3 linked regions of the Homo sapiens genome follow. The protein of the gene in region 1 interacts with the protein of each later gene in a biochemical or structural test. Each region holds a gene or a part of one and is shown in the gene's direction. Other genes may lie near its edges.

What was found. Proteins that work in one complex are often made in the same cells at the same time.
Region 2: the proteins of SNCA (region 1) and MAPT form a complex in vitro, tested with the Homo sapiens proteins (3 studies listed by BioGRID and IntAct).
Region 3: of the proteins of SNCA (region 1) and NEDD4L, one has a biochemical effect on the other in vitro, tested with the Homo sapiens proteins (3 studies listed by BioGRID).

The regions. Positions count from the first base shown.
Region 1 is NC_000004.12:89,834,011-89,841,194, reverse strand, and holds the start of SNCA (alpha-synuclein), read left to right. Parts: upstream 1-4,033; 5' UTR 4,034-4,233; exon of another isoform or gene 4,234-4,452; intron 4,453-4,460; exon of another isoform or gene 4,461-4,794; intron 4,795-4,954; exon of another isoform or gene 4,955-5,068; intron 5,069-5,502; 5' UTR 5,503-5,527; coding exon 5,528-5,648; intron 5,649-7,184. UniProt on the Homo sapiens protein: Neuronal protein that plays several roles in synaptic activity such as regulation of synaptic vesicle trafficking and subsequent neurotransmitter release.
Region 2 is NC_000017.11:45,988,554-45,995,553, forward strand, and holds part of MAPT (microtubule-associated protein tau), read left to right. Parts: intron 1-1,324; coding exon 1,325-1,522; intron 1,523-2,906; coding exon 2,907-3,033; intron 3,034-5,370; coding exon of another isoform or gene 5,371-5,424; intron 5,425-7,000. UniProt on the Homo sapiens protein: Promotes microtubule assembly and stability, and might be involved in the establishment and maintenance of neuronal polarity.
Region 3 is NC_000018.10:58,327,226-58,334,225, forward strand, and holds part of NEDD4L (E3 ubiquitin-protein ligase NEDD4-like), read left to right. Parts: intron 1-1,769; coding exon 1,770-1,902; intron 1,903-3,512; coding exon 3,513-3,689; intron 3,690-6,592; coding exon 6,593-6,667; intron 6,668-7,000. UniProt on the Homo sapiens protein: E3 ubiquitin-protein ligase that mediates the polyubiquitination of lysine and cysteine residues on target proteins and is thereby implicated in the regulation of various signaling pathways including autophagy, innate immunity or DNA repair.

The DNA.
Region 1 (7,184 bases):
ACAATATGAAGTTGGCCATGGGGTCAAATTAGAGAATCTGAATACTATGCTTCTCCTTGATTGCTCTTCCCATTTCTTCAGAGTAACCCTATTCCCCCATCTCATGCTCACCCCCTTTCCAAAATCATACATAATGATCTCCCAACAGTATGCATTAGGCTTTCTCTACTCTACCCACTATGAAATTACACAAGAAGCCTATCGCAATCTCACTACCTCGTCTCTCTCACAGGTTTACAGAAGGTGAGAGGAAGGTGCAGATAGAGAATAAGAAGCAGGTGGCTCCAGCATCAACATTACATCACCCCTTGTGTTCACAACAAATACGGAATATTATCCAAAGATAATAAACGTTGTATTTTCTTAACTTAAACACATTAAATCAGTCCTCTCTTTAATCAATTGTTAATGGGCAGCATCTTTATTTTCATGCCATTCTACTCTGCTGTCTTTGCTATAGCACAAGTTTACCACATACCATACCTAAAAATTCAGTTGTTCTATGGGGGTAAACAAAGTCTAGGTTAAGCATATATTTCATAGAATGTTAATCTATAGCAAAATTAATGAATTAAATCCAGATAAAAGAATCCTATTATGGTCTGGTAAAATATTTATATTTCACTTAGCAAAGAGAAAACAAAACATGAATATTGTAGTTATGAACAGAATATGCATGTTAGTAATGCTTCCAAATATGTTATTACTTCATAACTTCATATTTCTTATGAGGTACAAGCCATTCAATTAGTTTAACGTTATATTCAGAGAGGCTAAAGATTTACTGAAGACCATGCTGTCCATCAATAATGAAAAGAAAAATTAAAAAAACTTTATTTTAACTTCTAGTTCCCTTCTTTGTACTTGAGCAGCTTTCCCTCCTTAAGAATACAGACCTAGAACATATGCAATATCACTATCAATATTATGTGTAATTAAAAGTTCATTGGATGTTTACTGTGTTCAAGGCATTTTAAGGAGTGACAAGAGTTAAACATATAGTTGTAATTCAAAATGACAACGAAATTAGTTTACAGTTTTCTTTTTTTGTAGGTAGTAAGAAATCATCTCCCCCTATTGAGGAATACCAATATAGAAAAGGCAAAACTTTAAATATGAATGAACTGTTTCATAATAACATAAGTTCTTCTTGATTTCCATTGTCACATCCAAATTTGAAGGCTATTTCTAACACAGCTGGGTTCTACCTTTTTCCTTCTCACTCTTTACCACACCCAATCTGTGAGGCTTCAGACACAAACTGCTAATTCAGGAGACAATTGTGCCTTCTGTAACAGTTTCTGCTAAATTGTCTCAGCTCTGCCACTTAAAATAGCTAGGTGATCTCAGCATATCACCAAAACTCTTGGAGCTCAGTTTCTCTGTCTATAAAAGTTACATAAAATGTAATTGATCTGCTTGTTATGACTAAATAACATAGTACATTAGTCCTTTGCCAAAGGACTAACAAATTACCAAATAAAAGTTTGGAATCATGTTAAACGTTTATAAGAAGTGCAACTGTCCAGAAATAATTCTCTCACATTGGTCTGTTGTAATGAGACCTAAAATATCTCATTTTATTTACCTCTTTGACTTAAAGCACTAGGTCTCAAGGAGGTCATGGTTATACTATAAATATGTCATGTGAAATAATATATTAAATAATTGTTGTAATACTCTATTGAGATACTAGTTGTAAAGAGGCACAATGGAAAACTTATACTATTAACAGTAGTAAAAAGAAACAACAAAAAGCAATAAAAAACAAAACACCCATTCATGCAACGACATGAACGAACCTCACAAATATTATACTGAGTAAAAGAAGTCAGACAAATATAAAACAAAGTTTATACTACGTGATTAGATCTTTATGACATTCTAGAATATGCACATGAAGGTACAAGGTAACTGTCTGGAATGATGAAAATGTCCTGTGTCTTCAAAATAGTGTGGGTTACACTAATGCATGGCTTTTTCAAAACTGATTTAAAGGGACACAACATCTGAGCATTTCCCTAGGTGTAAATTACACTGCAATTTTAAAGAATCATCTAATGATATTGTGGTTATTTTTAAACAGTCCTTAAATTTTGTGGATGCATACTGAATGTTTACAGCTGAAAAGATATATATAAAGCTTGAATTTGGTAAAAAAAAAAAAAAAAGAGGGAGGATTGGTAGTGATAAAGTGAGTGGACTTATGGATGAGACATGATCAGCCATGCATTGAAAAAATGTAAAAGTTGGATGATCTTCACATGAGAGTCCTTTATTCTGTCTACTTTTGCATATGTTTGAATATTTCCCATAACAAAAAGTTGAAAATAGAGTGATCACATGAGTTAATCTCCTAATTTACAAAAAAGAAAACTGGAAACAGAAGGAGAACAAAACTTGTTCAAGGTCTCAAAGCCAGACAGCAAACTAGCTCCCAAGTCCAACCTTCTTGCTCTGGTCCTAAGCAAACAAAAAATATTAATATGAGCTACTGCATTAAGGAAAGTCTGCTTTTCCAAAGGGCAGACCAATAGTTCAAGGAAGAGTTTAAATAATAAATATTTGTGATCTTACTTTCATGCTTTTCTATTTTCCACTGAACACATATGCATTATCTTCTATATGTCTTTTATGTATAATCATTTGCTTCCTGTTCCTTGTGGTTTTAAAGTTGTTTTGTATGTTTAAATTTGATTTTACTCAAATTTCAGAACCCAAATTAGCGCAAGAATCAGACAAAGCATAACTTTCTATAAATATAAAAACAATTAAAAAAAAAACATACAGCAAAAACGAGTTGTTGTTTCCCCCCTCCTCTTCCAGTGCTTAACTAATCTTCCGAATCCAGGCACAGAAAGCAAAGGCTTTCTGCTAGTGGGAGGAGCTTGCTTCTCCATTCTGGTGTGATCCAGGAACAGCTGTCTTCCAGCTCTGAAAGAGGTGAAAATGTGTTAAGCGATGCAAAAATTGTCTTGAAGTTCGCGTGTGTATGTCTGTGTGCATGTGCGTGTGGTGGGTGGGGGGAGAGAAAAGGGGGTGTCAATTCTGAGGGCAACGAGAATCAGAAGTCAGAAAGGTGAGTGGTGTGTAGCATCTCCCTTTCAGAAGGGGCTGAAGAAGAAATTGGATATGATGGTCCGGTAGGCTAAATCACGCTGGATTTGTCTCCCAGATAAAGGGAGGTCTGCAAAGTAAGTCCCATTTCTAGAGCGAAAAGCCTTAGGACCGCTTGTTTTAGACGGCTGGGGAATATTTATTCCTTGTTCCACTGATGGGAAAATCAGCGTCTGGCAGGCGCTGATTGGTGGAAAGGAAAATGGTGATAGTGGCGTGGAAAGAGGATTTGCTGAGCCTTCTCCTGCCTCCTCAACCTGTGACTCTTCCTTAGTAGTCTCCCTTTCACCCTCAGGACCCTTTCCGGCTCTTCCTAGATTAAGAGCAAACGAAAACCTTGAAGATATTTGAACTAAAGCGACCCCTAACGTTGTAACCTGTGACCGTGATTAAATTTCAGCGATGCGAGGGCAAAGCGCTCTCGGCGGTGCGGTGTGAGCCACCTCCCGGCGCTGCCTGTCTCCTCCAGCAGCTCCCCAAGGGATAGGCTCTGCCCTTGGTGGTCGACCCTCAGGCCCTCGGCTCTCCCAGGGCGACTCTGACGAGGGGTAGGGGGTGGTCCCCGGGAGGACCCAGAGGAAAGGCGGGGACAAGAAGGGAGGGGAAGGGGAAAGAGGAAGAGGCATCATCCCTAGCCCAACCGCTCCCGATCTCCACAAGAGTGCTCGTGACCCTAAACTTAACGTGAGGCGCAAAAGCGCCCCCACTTTCCCGCCTTGCGCGGCCAGGCAGGCGGCTGGAGTTGATGGCTCACCCCGCGCCCCCTGCCCCATCCCCATCCGAGATAGGGACGAGGAGCACGCTGCAGGGAAAGCAGCGAGCGCCGGGAGAGGGGCGGGCAGAAGCGCTGACAAATCAGCGGTGGGGGCGGAGAGCCGAGGAGAAGGAGAAGGAGGAGGACTAGGAGGAGGAGGACGGCGACGACCAGAAGGGGCCCAAGAGAGGGGGCGAGCGACCGAGCGCCGCGACGCGGAAGTGAGGTGCGTGCGGGCTGCAGCGCAGACCCCGGCCCGGCCCCTCCGAGAGCGTCCTGGGCGCTCCCTCACGCCTTGCCTTCAAGCCTTCTGCCTTTCCACCCTCGTGAGCGGAGAACTGGGAGTGGCCATTCGACGACAGGTTAGCGGGTTTGCCTCCCACTCCCCCAGCCTCGCGTCGCCGGCTCACAGCGGCCTCCTCTGGGGACAGTCCCCCCCGGGTGCCGCCTCCGCCCTTCCTGTGCGCTCCTTTTCCTTCTTCTTTCCTATTAAATATTATTTGGGAATTGTTTAAATTTTTTTTTTAAAAAAAGAGAGAGGCGGGGAGGAGTCGGAGTTGTGGAGAAGCAGAGGGACTCAGGTAAGTACCTGTGGATCTAAACGGGCGTCTTTGGAAATCCTGGAGAACGCCGGATGGGAGACGAATGGTCGTGGGCACCGGGAGGGGGTGGTGCTGCCATGAGGACCCGCTGGGCCAGGTCTCTGGGAGGTGAGTACTTGTCCCTTTGGGGAGCCTAAGGAAAGAGACTTGACCTGGCTTTCGTCCTGCTTCTGATATTCCCTTCTCCACAAGGGCTGAGAGATTAGGCTGCTTCTCCGGGATCCGCTTTTCCCCGGGAAACGCGAGGATGCTCCATGGAGCGTGAGCATCCAACTTTTCTCTCACATAAAATCTGTCTGCCCGCTCTCTTGGTTTTTCTCTGTAAAGTAAGCAAGCTGCGTTTGGCAAATAATGAAATGGAAGTGCAAGGAGGCCAAGTCAACAGGTGGTAACGGGTTAACAAGTGCTGGCGCGGGGTCCGCTAGGGTGGAGGCTGAGAACGCCCCCTCGGGTGGCTGGCGCGGGGTTGGAGACGGCCCGCGAGTGTGAGCGGCGCCTGCTCAGGGTAGATAGCTGAGGGCGGGGGTGGATGTTGGATGGATTAGAACCATCACACTTGGGCCTGCTGTTTGCCTGAGTTTGAACCACACCCCGAGTGAGCAGTTAGTTCTGTTGCCTACGCCTTTCCACCATCAACCTGTTAGCCTTCTTCTGGGATTCATGTTAAGGATACCCCTGACCCTAAGCCTCCAGCTTCCATGCTTCTAACTCATACTGTTACCCTTTAGACCCCGGGAATTTAAAAAAGGGGTTAATCTTTTCATGCAACTCCACTTCTGAAATGCAGTAATAACAACTCAGAGGATTCATCCTAATCCGTGGTTAGGTGGCTAGACTTTTACTAGCCAAGATGGATGGGAGATGCTAAATTTTTAATGCCAGAGCTAAAAATGTCTGCTTTGTCCAATGGTTAAATGAGTGTACACTTAAAAGAGTCTCACACTTTGGAGGGTTTCTCATGATTTTTCAGTGTTTTTTGTTTATTTTTCCCCGAAAGTTCTCATTCAAAGTGTATTTTATGTTTTCCAGTGTGGTGTAAAGGAATTCATTAGCCATGGATGTATTCATGAAAGGACTTTCAAAGGCCAAGGAGGGAGTTGTGGCTGCTGCTGAGAAAACCAAACAGGGTGTGGCAGAAGCAGCAGGAAAGACAAAAGAGGGTGTTCTCTATGTAGGTAGGTAAACCCCAAATGTCAGTTTGGTGCTTGTTCATGAGTGATGGGTTAGGATAATCAATACTCTAAATGCTGGTAGTTCTCTCTCTTGATTCATTTTTGCATCATTGCTTGTCAAAAAGGTGGACTGAGTCAGAGGTATGTGTAGGTAGGTGAATGTGAACGTGTGTATTTGAGCTAATAGTAAAAAATGCGACTGTTTGCTTTTCCAGATTTTTAATTTTGCCCTAATATTTATGACTTTTTAAAAATGAATGTTTCTGTACCTACATAATTCTATTTCAGAGAACAGTTTTAAAAACTCATAGTCTTTTAAAAAATAATCAAGAATATTCTTAAGAATCAAAATCATTGATGGATCTGTGATTTCTTTTACCATCATGAAAAATGTTTGTCAATTTTAATCCATTCTGATTTTTAAAATATGACTTTGATATGCCCCTGTGATGTGTATAAAGAGACCTATTTGTGGCCCTAAAATGGAAAGAACAGATTAGTCTTTGATAGAGTTACTTCATGTGATCATTTGGTCTCTGTGAACACTGAGGACAGAGAAAAGTGCTTGAGGGCTGCTACTAATCTCTCAGAAACATTTGTATAGTTCATCCATCAAATGACACACATACTAAAAGAATAAAGAAATTGATGCTTATTACCTACTTGTTCCTAAAGTTCCACCTTGGGGTATACACCCAAACTCTGACTCTCTTTTCTGTAACTTGAACTGTATTCAATTGAGTGTTATTTTACAAACCACTTTGAATTCCTTGGAAAAGAATAGACACACACTCTCATCCACAGGCATAGACACACACACTCAACACAGACACATTGCCCATTCTTCCTCTCTTCTTTCTCCTCTGAGCTTTTTCACATTCTCTGGTGGCAACTATAGCAGTAAGAGTCACAGGATGAACAGTCAGGTGGAGGATGACCACATTGAGTTGCCTAGCTGAAACATGTGCTCCGTCTATGTCTGCAAAGTGAAAGAAAGCTACACTATCTCTTCAACATAGATCAGTGGGGGAAATTTTATACTTGGGATGATTTATATGAATGCATCTCATCAAAGTTCACAACACATTTTTTTTTCAGTTTTTTATTTTCAGTTTTTAGAGTCAGGGCCTTGCTCTGTCGCCCAGGCTGGACTGCAGTGATGCTATCATAGCTCACTGCATCCTTGAATTCCTGGGCTCAAGTCATGCCCCCACCTCAGCCTCCTGAGTAGCCAGGATTATAGGCATGTGCCACTGCCTCATTATTTAGACTTTTCTTATGTTGACTTAATCTTCCCACAAATCTTCAATTAAATTACTTTTTTTCTACCTTAAAACATATTTTCAGAAAGTCATTGAAATAGGGTGTTACAAGAGGAAAAAATTGATGAGTTAATTTTAAATATTTTATGAAGTGTGAATTATACCTTTTTAGATGGAATTTGGAATACTGAATCAGTGACATGCAGTTTATCAATATCTTTCCGTTTGTCCTCAGATTTCCAAGTTCTGCAAGCACAAGTTTCTTTGACTTAGTTAC
Region 2 (7,000 bases), on another chromosome or scaffold:
GGCTGCTTCCTCTTGTGGAATGGGTTCAAAAGTAAGCAGTGTTGTTTACACTGACAAACTGAAAAAAAAAGAAAAAGAGATAACATTGGAGGCTTGGCACAGTGGCTCATGCCTGTAATCCCAGCACTTTGGGAGGCTAAGGTGGGAGGATGTCCCCAGCCCAAGAGTTCTAGACCAGCCTGGGCAACATAGCAAGACCCCATCTCAAAAAAAAAATTTAATTGGCCAGGCAGAGGTGGGAGGATCACTTGAACCCAAAGGGTGGAGGCTGCAGTGAGCCGTGATGGCACCACTGCACTCCAGCCAGGGCAACAGAGGGAGACCCTGTCTCTAAAACAAACAAACAAACAAACAAACAAAAGAGTTAACATTGGCCAGATTAGGATTCACCAGATAGTGTTAATATTAGTTTGATTTGAGACTTTAATCAGAAAGCACATGTGTGGTGGGGGTGGGTGTAACCTAAGTCAGGTAGAATCTTTCCAACTTGGGGGGGGCACACTCCTGATTGTAGCCATATGAGTCTGTCAGTGTGGTGGAAGAGGCCATGGGTTAATGGGCAGGTAAAAAAGCACCTTGCCTGGAATTGAGTAGAAAGTAAGGCCCTTCAGACCCCGTGACACACTTGGGGACATTTTCTTGAGTAACATCCTAAGATTCATGTACCTTGATGATCTCCATCAACTTACTCATGTGAAGCACCTTTAAACCAGTCGTCTCCAAATTCAGGGGCACAGTAACATCCAACAGGCTGGAGAAAGAACGTACTAGAACTTCCATTCCTTTTTCATGTCCTCTTCTAAAAGCTTTGTCAGGGCCAGGCGCGGTGGCTCACGCCTGTAATCCCAGCACTTTGGGAGGCCGAGACGGGTGGATCACGAGGTCAGGAGATCGAGACCATCCTGGCTAACACAGTGAAACCCCATCTCTACTAAAAATACAAAAAAACGAGCCGGGCGTGGTGGTGGGCGCCTGTAGTCCCAGCTACTCGGGAGGCTGAGGCAGGAGAATGGCGTGAACCCAGGAGGCAGAGCTTGCAGTGAGCCGAGATTGCACCACTGCAGTCCAGCCTGGGCGACAGAGCGAGACTCCGTCTCAAAAAAGAAAAAGAAAAAGAAAAAGAACTGTGATTGGGGAGGACGGTCACTTTCCTGTTCTTACTGATCAGAAGGGATATTAAGGGTACCTGATTCAAACAGCCTGGAGATCACTGCTTTCAACCATTACCTGCCTTATTTATTTTTAGTTACTGTCCTTTTTTCAGTTTGTTTCCCTCCTCCATGTGCTGACTTTTATTTTGATTTTATTTATGTTTATGTTTAAGACATCCACACGTTCCTCTGCTAAAACCTTGAAAAATAGGCCTTGCCTTAGCCCCAAACACCCCACTCCTGGTAGCTCAGACCCTCTGATCCAACCCTCCAGCCCTGCTGTGTGCCCAGAGCCACCTTCCTCTCCTAAATACGTCTCTTCTGTCACTTCCCGAACTGGCAGTTCTGGAGCAAAGGAGATGAAACTCAAGGTAAGGAAACCACCTTTGAAAAGAACCAGGCTGCTCTGCTGTGGTTTGCAAATGTGGGGTTTGTTTATTTGTTTTTTAGCCTCAAAGACCTTTCTTCAAATGAGTTCTGGCATAGAAGCACCGTGTAAAATAGTTAGAATTCTGGGCAAAGGGGAAAAGAGAGCTGGGGGCCATCCCTCTCAGCACCCCACAGGCTCTCATAGCAGCAGCTCCTAAGACACCTGGTGGGACCTTGGTTTCGAAATCGCTACTCTAAGGCTGGGCACGGTGGCTCACACCTGTAATCCCAGCTCTTTAGGAGGCCGAGGAGGGTGGATCACCTGAGATCAGGAGTTCGAGACCAGCCTGGCTAACATGGCAAAACCCTGTCTCTACTAAAAATACAAAAATTAGCCGGGCGTGGTGGTATGCGTGGTGGTAATCGCAGCTACTCGGGAGGCTGAGGCACAAGGATTGCTTGAACCCCAGAGGCAGAGGTTGTAGTTAGCTCCAGCTTGGGCGACAGAGCAAGACCCTGTCGCAAAAATTGTTTAAAAAACAAACCCAAAATTGCTACTCTCATTGGGTTCCTTTGCCCATTCCTGATTTTGGCAAGAGAAATGCTTCCAGATTGCCCTGATCTGGGTAGGACAGCATCACGCCATAGCAACACTGCCCCGTGAGCTCACTGCCCCCTCAACTAGCTTGTGGTCCTTGGTTAATGTCAGTTTCTTTTTTGAGTTTGTGTTATGTCTAAGGGTCATCTGCTGGGTAACGGAACCCAGGGACTGCCCTAGTCCCTAGACTGTGCCATGCCCGACTCTGCCAGCTTTGTCAGTGATGCTGGTGCTCGCCTCCTCGGGTGCTCGCCTGGTCTGAGCACACCCAAGGAGTTCTTGAGGCCTTAGGGTTGTTTGCGAGAGAATGAAAGAACACGACCTAGCTCTCTTTAGCATCCTTGGTCAGGTTCAACACTGCCCCCAGGGGCCTCTGGTGGAGCCAACCACCATCAGCCAAATAAATCCATAATTAGAGTCAGAAAATGGATGTCTGCATATGTGTAGTGCACTAATGTCCTGCCGATGATTGACATGGAGTGGAGAGTGACCTGATCATTGCTGTGAGCTCTGCTGGCCTTGGCACAACTCATGCTGATAACTAATGCACACAGTTCCTCTGGGAGGAAATGTCCTCAGGGAACTTGGAGTTTGGGTGGGGATGTGGGTTTGTGTGCCCAGCAAGCCCTTGTGGTTGTAGCAGACACTAGTGGCATCTAGGAGGCAAAGGGTCACCCCAGTCTTAGCCACGTTTTGAGTCAAGGTGGCGGAGTGGGGCTGGTGTTGACTCTTGGTGGCAGTAACTTTTCCCAATGGTGAAAAACCCCTCTATCATGTTTCATTTACAGGGGGCTGATGGTAAAACGAAGATCGCCACACCGCGGGGAGCAGCCCCTCCAGGCCAGAAGGGCCAGGCCAACGCCACCAGGATTCCAGCAAAAACCCCGCCCGCTCCAAAGACACCACCCAGCTCTGGTAAGAAGAACGTTCTCTTGAATCTTAGAGGAAGCTGAAGCTCTCAGAGGTACAGCCTTCATTTTAGGAGGCCTTAGGCCACTGAGAATGAATAACCCCTGGCAGCTGGTCAGCAGCTTGCAGTTTACTAAGCACTGGAGTCTTCATTGCCTTCTCAGTCCTTTTGATTTCTGAGGCAAATGTTGAATCCCTACCTTTTTTTTTTTTTTTCTTTTGAGACAGAGTTTCGCTTTTGTTATCCAGGCCGGAGTGCAGTGGTGTGATCTCAGCTCACTGCATCCTCCACCTCCCAGGTTCAAGCGATTCTCCTACCTCAGCCTCCCTAGTAGCTGGGATTACAGGCACCTGCCACTATGCCCGGCTAATTTTTTGTATTTTTAGTAGAGACAGGGTTTCACCATGTTGGCCAGGCTGGTCTCGAACGCCTGACCTCAGGTGATCCACCTGCCTCGGCCTCCCAAAGTGCTGGGATTACAGGCATGAGCCACCACTCCCAGCCTGAATCCTCACTTTTTATCAATGAAGAAATTGAGGCTGATTCTGCAGCATGATAAAAAAAAATACAGAAAAAGGAAAAAAAAGAAAGAAATCGAGCCTCTGAGAGTTTGCTTGACTGAGTCTAACCAGCTCATTTTAAACCCGAGGAAAATGCAGTCACATGACTACTAAGTGGCAGCTCTCGGAGCCTCTCTGGCCCCAAGTCCAGGGTTCCATAGAGGCAGCCCCAGCATGGCATGTTTTCAGTCCCCAAATGAGACTCTGGAGACAAATGTCTCTGGAGACAGAGCAGCAGCCTGGATAAGTCACAATGGGTGACGTCACTCAGGGCTCAACCCCTGGGCAGCTTAACTTGCTAGGGACGTTAGGAGTCTGCTGCAAAACCTGAGGGTCTTAGCTGAGCAGTCACAGGCTGGGCCCGTTGCCCTGGGCTCCTGTGAGTAAAACCCAGTCAATTTTGAGTACCCAGTAAGGCATCCATTGAGTTATTTTGCAGCCAGGAGTGCTATTAAGAACAGTCGCGGCTGGGCGTGGTGGCTCATGCCTGTAATCCCAGCACTTTGGGAGGCCAAGGTGGGCGGATCACCTGAGGTCAGGAGTTCGAGACCAGCTTGGCCAACATGGCAAAACCCCGTCTCTAATAAAAATACAAAATAATTAGCTGGGCGTGGTGGCGGGCGCCTGTAATCCCAGCTTCTCAGGAGGGTGAGGAAGGAGAATCACTTGAACCCAGGAGGCAGAGGTTGCAGTGAGCTGAGATCGCACCATTGCACTCCAGCCTGGATGACAAAAGTGAGATTCCTTCTCAAAAAAAAAAAAAAAAAAACAGTCGTCCTCTTTGGGGATTAGGGACAGCCTGCCTGCCTGCCCGAGCACTTCTCTCTTCCATTGCCCCAGTGAAGTATTCCAGGCCCCTGGGTTTAGACTCTGCACCATGTAGGGGTGTCTGACCTGCACTTGCTCCTTGGTGGCACGGGCAGCCTATGGCACTTGCTGCGGGCTGTGACCAAAGCCTGGCCTGGATCTTGGATCTTGGTGACTCTGCTTCTCCCTGGCCTGAGGGAGCTGCCCAGAGCCTGCCCACCACCTGCTGCGTGTCTTTGCGGTGGCATTTCTCGCACACATGCCGTGCAGTGGCACCCCCAAGGATGGCCATTCACTAAGGCCCATTGTTTTTGTCTTTTCGCTTCGTGTTTTCTGGCCTGGTGTTTTTCTCATATACATGTGATCCAGGGATAATTCCCAGAATTTTGACAGGATTTTAAGTAGCGTTTGGATCCTGCTGTTTTTTTTTCACTTAACATCGGGCCAGTTGACTCACACTCTGTTTTTTGTTGTTGTTTTTTTGAGACGGAGTCTCACTGTGTCACCCAGGCTGAAGTGCAGTGGCACAATCTTGGCATACTGCAACCTCTGCTTCCCAAATTCAAGCAGTTTTCCTGCCTCAGCCTCCTGAGTAGCTGGGACTACAGGCACAGGCCACCACGCCCTGCTAATTTTTGTATTTTTAGTAAAGACAGGGTTTCACCATTTTGGCCAGCCTAGTCTCGAACTCCTGACCTCAAGTGATCCGCCCACCTCGGCCTCCCAAAGTGCTGGGATTACAGGGGACTCACACTTTGTAACAACCTGAAACAACGTGATGCATTTCCCTTTGGGTCTTACCTGCTCTTCGGTGGCTGCCTGCAGGTGGAGAGACCCTCCCCCTTGGGCCCCTCGACCTTGTTTCAGAATGGGGCCCCTGCTGGGCCAGCTGTGGGTGCCTGCCACGTGAAGGACTCATTAAGGCCCTGTTTAAGCCTGATGATAATAAGGCTTTCGTGGATTTTTCTCTTTAAGCGACTAAGCAAGTCCAGAGAAGACCACCCCCTGCAGGGCCCAGATCTGAGAGAGGTACTCGGGAGCCTACTTCGCTGGGAGCAGCCTCCCTTTGCGTGTGTGGCCATTCACTGGCTTGTGTTTCTAGAGCCGGGAGGACCCTTTTCTGCAATGCAGGGTTCACACAGGGTTCGCAGCCTGAAGATGGAGCAGTCCGAATTCTCTTCCCTGTGCAGTTTGCGCAGCTGTGTTTGTCTGATGGGCTTTCTAATCCTGTGTGCTCTCCTTGACTTCAGGGACAATGGCATTACAGGCATGAGCCACCATGCCTGGCTGTCTCCCTATGTTTCAGATGAAGACATAGGCTTAAGGAGGTCAGGTGACTTGCCCACGACCACTCTGTAAATAAGAGGCATGAAAAGTATTTGGAGCCACCACCACCAAGCCCACTGGTCACCCTGGGTCTCTGAAGTCAGGGAGGCAGGAGGATGGGAGGTCTGAGGAGGCAGAGAGGCTGAGCCTGGAGGCCCTGGAGGCCGAGGCCCCATCTGTTGTTTCCTTATGTGGAAAATAAGAGGCTTCGTTTGTCCTATTGCCACAGAGCGTACTACTTCAGGAACATCCAAGACATGGAAATCCGCAGGGCACGGTGGCTCACGTCTATAATCCCGGCACTTTGGGAGGTTGAGGTGGGAGAATCGCTTGAGGCCAGAAGTTCAAGACCAGCCTGAGCAACATAGTCAGACCCCGTCTCTATAAAAAACATTATTTTTAAAAAAGACATGGAAGTCAAATTCTAAAAACTGGTGCTGGCTGGGTGCGGTGGCTCATGCCTATAATCCCAGCACTTTGGGAGGCCGAGGCGGGTGGATCACCTGAGGTCAGGAGTTCAAGACCAGCCTGGCCAACATGGTAAAACCTCTACTAAAGAAATCTTTACTGAAAATACAAAAATCCAGTCTCTACTAAAATAAGTCTCTACTAAAAATACAAAAATTAGCCAGGCGTGGTGCTGCACACCTGTAATATCAGCTACTCGGGAGGCTGAGGCAGGAGACTCGCTTGATCCCATGCAGCGGAGGTTGCAGTGAGCCGAGATCACGCCATTGCACTCCAGCCTGGGCATCAGAATAAGACTCCGTCTCAAAAAAAAAACCACAAAAAAACAAAACAACAACAAAAGAAAACTAGTGCTTATTCGTCACTGGCCAAGCTGCCCATTGGCTACATGGGTGCTTCAAAGAGCTGCCCTTCTCCAGGTCTGGCCAGCAGGTATGTGTTACAGCAAATGCCTGGGGCAGCGGCAGGGGCATTGCTGCGGGAAGCTTCTGGACTTGCAGGAAAGCTAAGTTCTCAGACTGCAGGGGAGCTAAGCACACCTCGGCACAGGGTGAGGCCTGCGGTTCTCAGACTTCAGTCTTTGTGGAGCTTGAGAAAAATGAGGCTTTGCAGGTCCCACCCCTAGAGATTCTGCTCTATCCACTCTTGAAGGGGATCGAGAAATTTGCATTTTGCAACTCCCACTTTCCTCCTTGAAAGCTCCGGAGATTCTGACGCAGGGTTCCGTGGGCCACACTTTGGAAAATACAGACCCATGAGATAGAATACCAGACTGTTGAAGTGTAACGGGGGCCTGGGAAGTGCAGTAACA
Region 3 (7,000 bases), on another chromosome or scaffold:
TAGCTGGGATTACAGGCGCCCGCCGCCATGCCCAGCTAATGTTTGTATTTTTGTGAAGATGGGGTTTCACTGGCTTGGTCAAGCTGGTTTCAAACTCCTGACCTCAGGTGATCCGCCCACCTCAGCCTCCCAAAGTGCTAGGATTACAGGTATGACCCACCACGCCCGGCTGAAAAATGCAGTTCTTAATCCAAGTTCGGGCTCACATGTAGTTTTGGGAGAAGGCAGAGGCATAACTGCCCCATCAAGGAGGCAGCAATGCCAAAGGGAGAGGCTGAGCCAGGAAGGACACAGCAGAACTTGGCAGAACCTGAGGAGCGCCTCCTTCCAATGGGCATAACTTCTAGAAGGCAAGAGGAAAGTTAGTTAAGGAAAAAGAGTTTCCACCACAACCTCTGCTAGCAGGCCCTTTATTGGGATACAGTATAAGTTCATTTCAGAATGTGTGAGAAAACTTTAAAATTTGTGTTTTAGAAAGAGTCTATAATGAGTGTTCTTGATAAGTACTATATTTCAGTTAGTCTGAAATGACGATTTCAACTTTTGAGATACTGACTTGTGACATAATTTTTGTTAATGGGATATGTTATCTTATTGAAAGTATCTGTGAGAGTTTTCCCTGAAAAAATTTTTGGCATTTAAACTTGTACACTAAAAGCCTCTGACTAGTATTTCCCCCAAAGTATGATTGCCTATAATTTACTGCAAAAAAAAAAGTTTTCTTTTTTCTTTTTTTTTTTGTTTTGTTTTGTTTTGAGATGGAGTCTCACTCTGCTGCCCTGGCTAGAGTACAGTGACATGATCTCTCAGCTCACTGCAACCTCTGCCTCCTGGGCTCAAGTGATTCTCCTGCCTCAGCCTCCTGAGTAGCTGGGACTACAGGCACGCATCACCACACTCGGCTAATTTTTGTGTTTTTAGTAGAGGCGGGGTTTTGCCATGTTGGCCAGGTACGTCTTGAGCTCCTGACCTCAAGTGATCCGCCCGCCTTGGCCTCCCAAAGTGCTGGGATTACAGGCATGAGCCACCATGCCCAGCCCAAAAAAGTCTTCCAAATTGAATCAAAACTTTTAGATCCTGAATTGAGAACATCACATGACAAAAAATAGGGTATGATGTTTTGGTGTTCTTCAGACCCCGGCTGACTTGAGAGGTTATCTCCTGATGTTATTAGGATTTTTAAAGTAGGGTAAAGGAGGTAAATGCAGTGTCACGATTTTGAGATTCTGTTAAAATGAGCTAGAAAGCAGCTGAAAAAAATTCATGTTGGATCAGGTGTACTTTCCTCCAGATGACAGCTTTGAATTTGTCCCTTTTGTAGTCTTTGGTCAAATTGCTGGTGACCAGAAGTAGCTGCCTTGTCATTGCTGGACTTCTAGAAGGATTGGGACTGCCCAGCTGCTGTGTGAACTTGCCTGTCACCTCTGCTTCCAGAGGTCTGACTTGTCACTGTGGCAAATGGGCAGAGGACTTTGATTTCTGTTTTTTATTAAACACTGAGGTATATTTTGAAATGTATGCCTGAAAGATGCTCAAAATGGTGTGACTAATGCATTTTAAAACTGCATTTATTTGATTGAAATGAACCTTAACCTATACTTTAGCCGTAATATGGTGGGAGAATTCTCACATTGGATGACCAGCTAGTTGTCAGTGTTTGACGCTGACACTTTAGTGGCCATCTGGCCCTCCGTGAGCATTGAACTGTCATGAAGGGCCCGATCTCAACCACTTCTCTTCTTCTCTTTCCCCCTTTCCTGCATGCTCAGGGACGTGTCCTCGGAGTCGGACAATAACATCAGACAGATCAACCAGGAGGCAGCACACCGGCGCTTCCGCTCCCGCAGGCACATCAGCGAAGACTTGGAGCCCGAGCCCTCGGAGGGCGGGGATGTCCCCGAGGTACGATGTCCCCAGAATGGTGCAAAGCCCGGCAGCTCCTTCTTCCCATGTTCTCCAGCTTGATTTTATATCATAATTTCTTCTGTCAGTAAACATTGTTGAGAATGTAAAGATTACAGTGACGCAGGGAATTAATTACCATCTGAATATTAATTTGAAAGTGCCTATAAAAGCCGTATTTGACAAGTATAGGTGGCTCTATATTATAGAAATGGGAATAACATTATTTTTATTTTTATTTTTTTTGAAGACAGTGTCTTGCTCTGTCGCCCAGGCTAGAGTGCAGTGGTGCAGTCTTGGCTCACTGCAACCTCCGCCTCCTGGGTTCGAGCAATTCTCCTGCCTCAGCCTCCTGAGTAGCTGGGATTACAGGCACGCATCACCACACCCGGCCAGTTTTTGTATTTTTAGTAGAAATGGGGTTTCACCATGTTGGCTAGGATGGTCTCAATCTCCTGACCTCGAGATCCGCCTGCTGCCTCAGCCTCCTAAAGTGCTGGGGTTATAGGTGCATGCCATCACAATGGCTAATTTTTTTTTTTTTTTTTTTTCCTAGTAGAGACGGGTTTCACCATGTTGGCCAGGCTGGTCTTGAACTCTTGACCTCATGATCCACCTGCCTTGGCCTCCCAAAGTGCTTAGATTACAGGCGTGAGCCACTGTGTCCAGCCCACATTATTTTTCAGTATGAAAATCTTAAGATATTTTTAGTTTGTAATTTATTTTTCACAGGGGTCTAACCATGTCTCATTAAATGACAGCTTGTTTTTATCATAGTTGAGCTGTTGAATGAGCCCTGTAACTTGTTTGGGTATCATATGCATATTTTTATTGAGTCGCTTTGACACTTGGAAGAGATTTATTACCATGAAAATATAAATTTAGGTGAACAGAAATGTGTAATTTTCCCTTTAAATAGTTATGGTATGTTACTTAAAACGTTATGAATTAAACAACAAATTAGCCATAATCTTCCATGCTATCTTACCAGCTCTGTTTATGTACTAAAAATCCATTCTTCTTAGACATTGTGTTAGGAAGATCATTTAGAATGCGGCGATTCAACTTGGAAAAGCAAAAGTAATGATTCCATAACACATTCACTCTAAGTTATTTTATACCATTGTTTAATTACAGCGTATAGCTTCTATGCTGCTCCCACGGTGAATCCTCAGTGGTTAAAAGTAAAAGAAAATCCATGACAATTGTTTATAAACTCCAGAGAAGTGTGTGTGTGTGTTTGTTTTTTTGCCCACACATATAGTAACAAGTGCTGGAAATCAGTCACTGTTCAGAGAGGCATTGTTATAAAGTGGTTAAGAGCACAGCCTCTGTCTGGAACCAGGCCTCTTTGATTCACATCATGGCCCTACCACTTGCTAGATGTTACCTTGGGCAGGTTATTTTCTGTGCCTCAGTTTCCTCATCTGTTAATTGGGGGAGTTATCTTCCTCGTGATTATTGTGAAGGTTGTGTGCCTCATGAGAGGCACTTAGTAGGTGTTAATTATAGTTATCACCGGGGCTATTGTTGTTACATGGTTTCATTGGGGAGCTGGGTGGATCCCTACTTCTTTCTAGTGTTTACCCCAGTGTCTCCTTCTCTGAAAGCCTTGGGAGACCATTTCAGAGGAAGTGAATATCGCTGGAGACTCTCTCGGTCTGGCTCTGCCCCCACCACCGGCCTCCCCAGGATCTCGGACCAGCCCTCAGGAGCTGTCAGAGGAACTAAGCAGAAGGCTTCAGATCACTCCAGACTCCAATGGGGAACAGTTCAGCTCTTTGATTGTAAGTAGTGGCCTTGTTTGAAAGAAAAGCTGAGCAATGTTTTATTGTTTTTTGTTGCTTAAGGAGAATCTCTTACGTAAATAGTGACCAAGGGTCTTCCAGCTCCCAGCTAACTCTGACATTTTCCAAAGTTCCTCCTTCCCTAGGAGAAGCAGGACTGTACTAAAATTAGCCCAAGCAGGTGAGAATCTTTCTTGATTTGGAAGGCAGCTTTGCTCACCCTTATACCACTAACACTTTCTTGGTTTATAAAGAACTCAAAGAAGTAAAACTCCATGATGTCTGTAATTATTAGCTTTAACCTTGTAGAATTCCTTTCCCAGCCAAAAGGCTCATGAAAATAGTACCTTTATCACAAAGGTAGTATTTCACAGTAACAATTAAAAGCCATCAGGCCTAATCAGTCCTCTTAAGTCATATTCTGCAGGATTTATCATTCTCATTTCGCTGATAAGGGCACAATGCTTAAGTGGCTCATCCAAGACAAGGTTTGAGTGGGAGATAGAAGACGTCTCCTAAGTCCCAGAGTATGAACCCTTGAGAAATGTTGTGAAATTGTGACACTGTCATCAAGGTAGCATTTTAACTTGGGCTCTCAACCATCAGAAACATACTTTCTAGAAGCTTCAGATGGGCCCAATGCCTGAGCCCAATGGAATCAGTCACAAAGACTTCCATGTTTGACAATACAAAACTGTGCAGAAATAACCCATAGAAAATCCCTGCTTGTGCATAGAATTAAGAGCAAATGAAGTCTCAGTGTTTCTCAAGAAACTGAACTTAAAAATGTACAATAGTAAATGATGATAGTCACTCCACTGAAAATGGCATCCTAAAAAAAAATAGTCATTACTATGACCATAACAAACATAAATGATAGCACTGCATACAATGTAAAAGCAAGTAAGTACTCACAAAATTGTTACTTTTTGGTTATGGTGTTTTTATTTTAAAAGACAGTATACGCCTCTATTACATGAGTTGCATTTATCATTCAGTTAATGTGATTTCACTTTGAAATTCTGTGACTTTTTCAAAAAGAGATGTGTCGCCAAGATGAAAATGTAGTACTAAATGGACAGGATAAAAGAAATTGCATATATATGGGATATTTGAACTGATAAAACTGTTGTTATAGAAACAACATAAACAATGAAGCCTTGTATTTAAAACCTATAAAAGCAAGGAGGTACCACAGAATCCATGGCAGTAACACACCTTTAGTAAACCAAGTAAACACTGTAATTTTTTTCAGCAATAATCATAAGTTAGCAATTCTAATTATTTAAATGAGGAGCTCCTGAATTTAATTATTCTAGATCTGTGAAATATCATTAAGACCCAAATACAATGTTGTATTATTTCACATCGTGTTCACTGTTAAATGAGAGTCAAATCGGATATTTGCTCATTGGGATTACCCTGTATTCAAGGGGAAGAACATGAGCTTTGGCTGGGCACGGTGGCTAATGCTTATAATCCCAGCACTTTGAGAGGCTGAAGCAGGCGGATCACCTGAGGTCAGGAGTTCAAGACCAGCCTGGCCAACATGGTGAAACCCCGTCTCTACTAAAAATGCAAAACTTAGCCGGGTGTGGTGGGGTGCACCTGTAGTTCCAGTTACTCAGGAGGCCAAGGCCCAAAAATTTCTTGAACCCAGGAGGCAGAGGTTGCAGTGAGCCACGATTGCGCCACTGCACTCCAGCCTGAGCAACAGAGTGACACTTTTATTAAAGACTGATTCTTTCACAGTAACCAATGTGGGAAGATGTGAATTGTCCCCCATCCCTACCACAGAGTCTTCTTGTACCATTTACTTATCACAAAATATTAAAAATGAGTAAATACTAGAAACTGATACTATGGATGAACTTGCCGATAAGGAGACTCTGGCTTCTGTGTGTGACCTGCTGCTAATCTTCATTCATATCAATTAGGCTTCATTTAACCACATAGACTAATACAAACAAGTTAGAGGAATATTAAGACACTACACAGTAGATCTTTTTTTTTAGCTTGATCTCACTATTTTTAATCATTCCTGTCTTTACTACTTGAAGTCCACTTAGAAGCTAAAATTGGCTGAGCATGGAGGCTCACACCTGTAATCCCAGTACTTTGGGAGGCCGAGGTGGGTGAATCATCTGAGGTCAGGAGGTCGAGACCAGCCTGACCAATATGGTGAAACCCCATCTCTACTAAAAATACAAAAAATTAGCCAAGTGTGGTGGGGGGGGCTTGTAGTCCCAGCTACTCAGGAGGCTGAGACAGGAGAATCACTGGAACCTGGGAGGCAGAGGTTGCAGTGAACTGAGATCATGCCACTGCACTCCAGCCTGAGCAATAGAACAAGACTCTATATTTAAAAAAAAAAAAAAAAAGCAGCTAAAATTATAAATACCAGATCTTTCAGAAGTAGGCCAAGATGATGTCTGAGCTCCTCTGAATATAGGATGCAACTGACTCTTTTTCAATTGTAGTAATCAATAAATGTTGGGTAGCCACATATCACTATTTCTTCCGTCTATTCACATCACATTAAAATTTACCCTGAGGGTGCATCTTAGAGCAAACTACAAGACTGCTAGCTTCTTTCTGTTTGTAAAGCAGCATTAGAGTGTTGCAGAGTCCTGTTGAGTCTCCTTTCTGAAAGTTTTGGTCTCCTCTTACTTTTGCCACTAATTCTAAGGACCAATCAAAATTCCAGTCTGCTTAACTGAAAATTAAAGTGAAAGATAACTTTTTCAAGGATGACTGTCCTTGCTCTGAAAAGATGTTTCATTTAATTACCTTCTAATATCGAAGAGCGGTGAATATGGTTGAGTGATATGTTTGTTAAACCAATGAAAGTTGCTTTTAAGAATATATTTCTTGATGCTTCCTGTCTTTTCCTCTCCTTCCAGCAAAGAGAACCCTCCTCAAGGTTGAGGTCATGCAGTGTCACCGACGCAGTTGCAGAACAGGGCCATCTACCACCGGTAACCCATGCTAATTTCCAGTCATCAGTTGACTTTTTGGGCTTTCATTTACAATCATCTGGGCTGCTGCAAAAAGAGTTTTTCCTGTGTAAATTTATTTACAATATAAATGAGATGTTTTTAAATTTCCTGGCCAATTGCCCTAGGAAAGTGGATTTCCAATACAGAGAATTGTTACTGCCACCCATCTCTAAAATGCTGGAACCTCCATTGCTTTAGTTTTTCACCCAAATTTATACCAATTTTGATTTGCTCACTTAAACCTCTTGGTACATTAGTTAGTAATTCCTTTTACCTTATTGAGTTACTATAGTTATGCTCCAGTGATCTGTA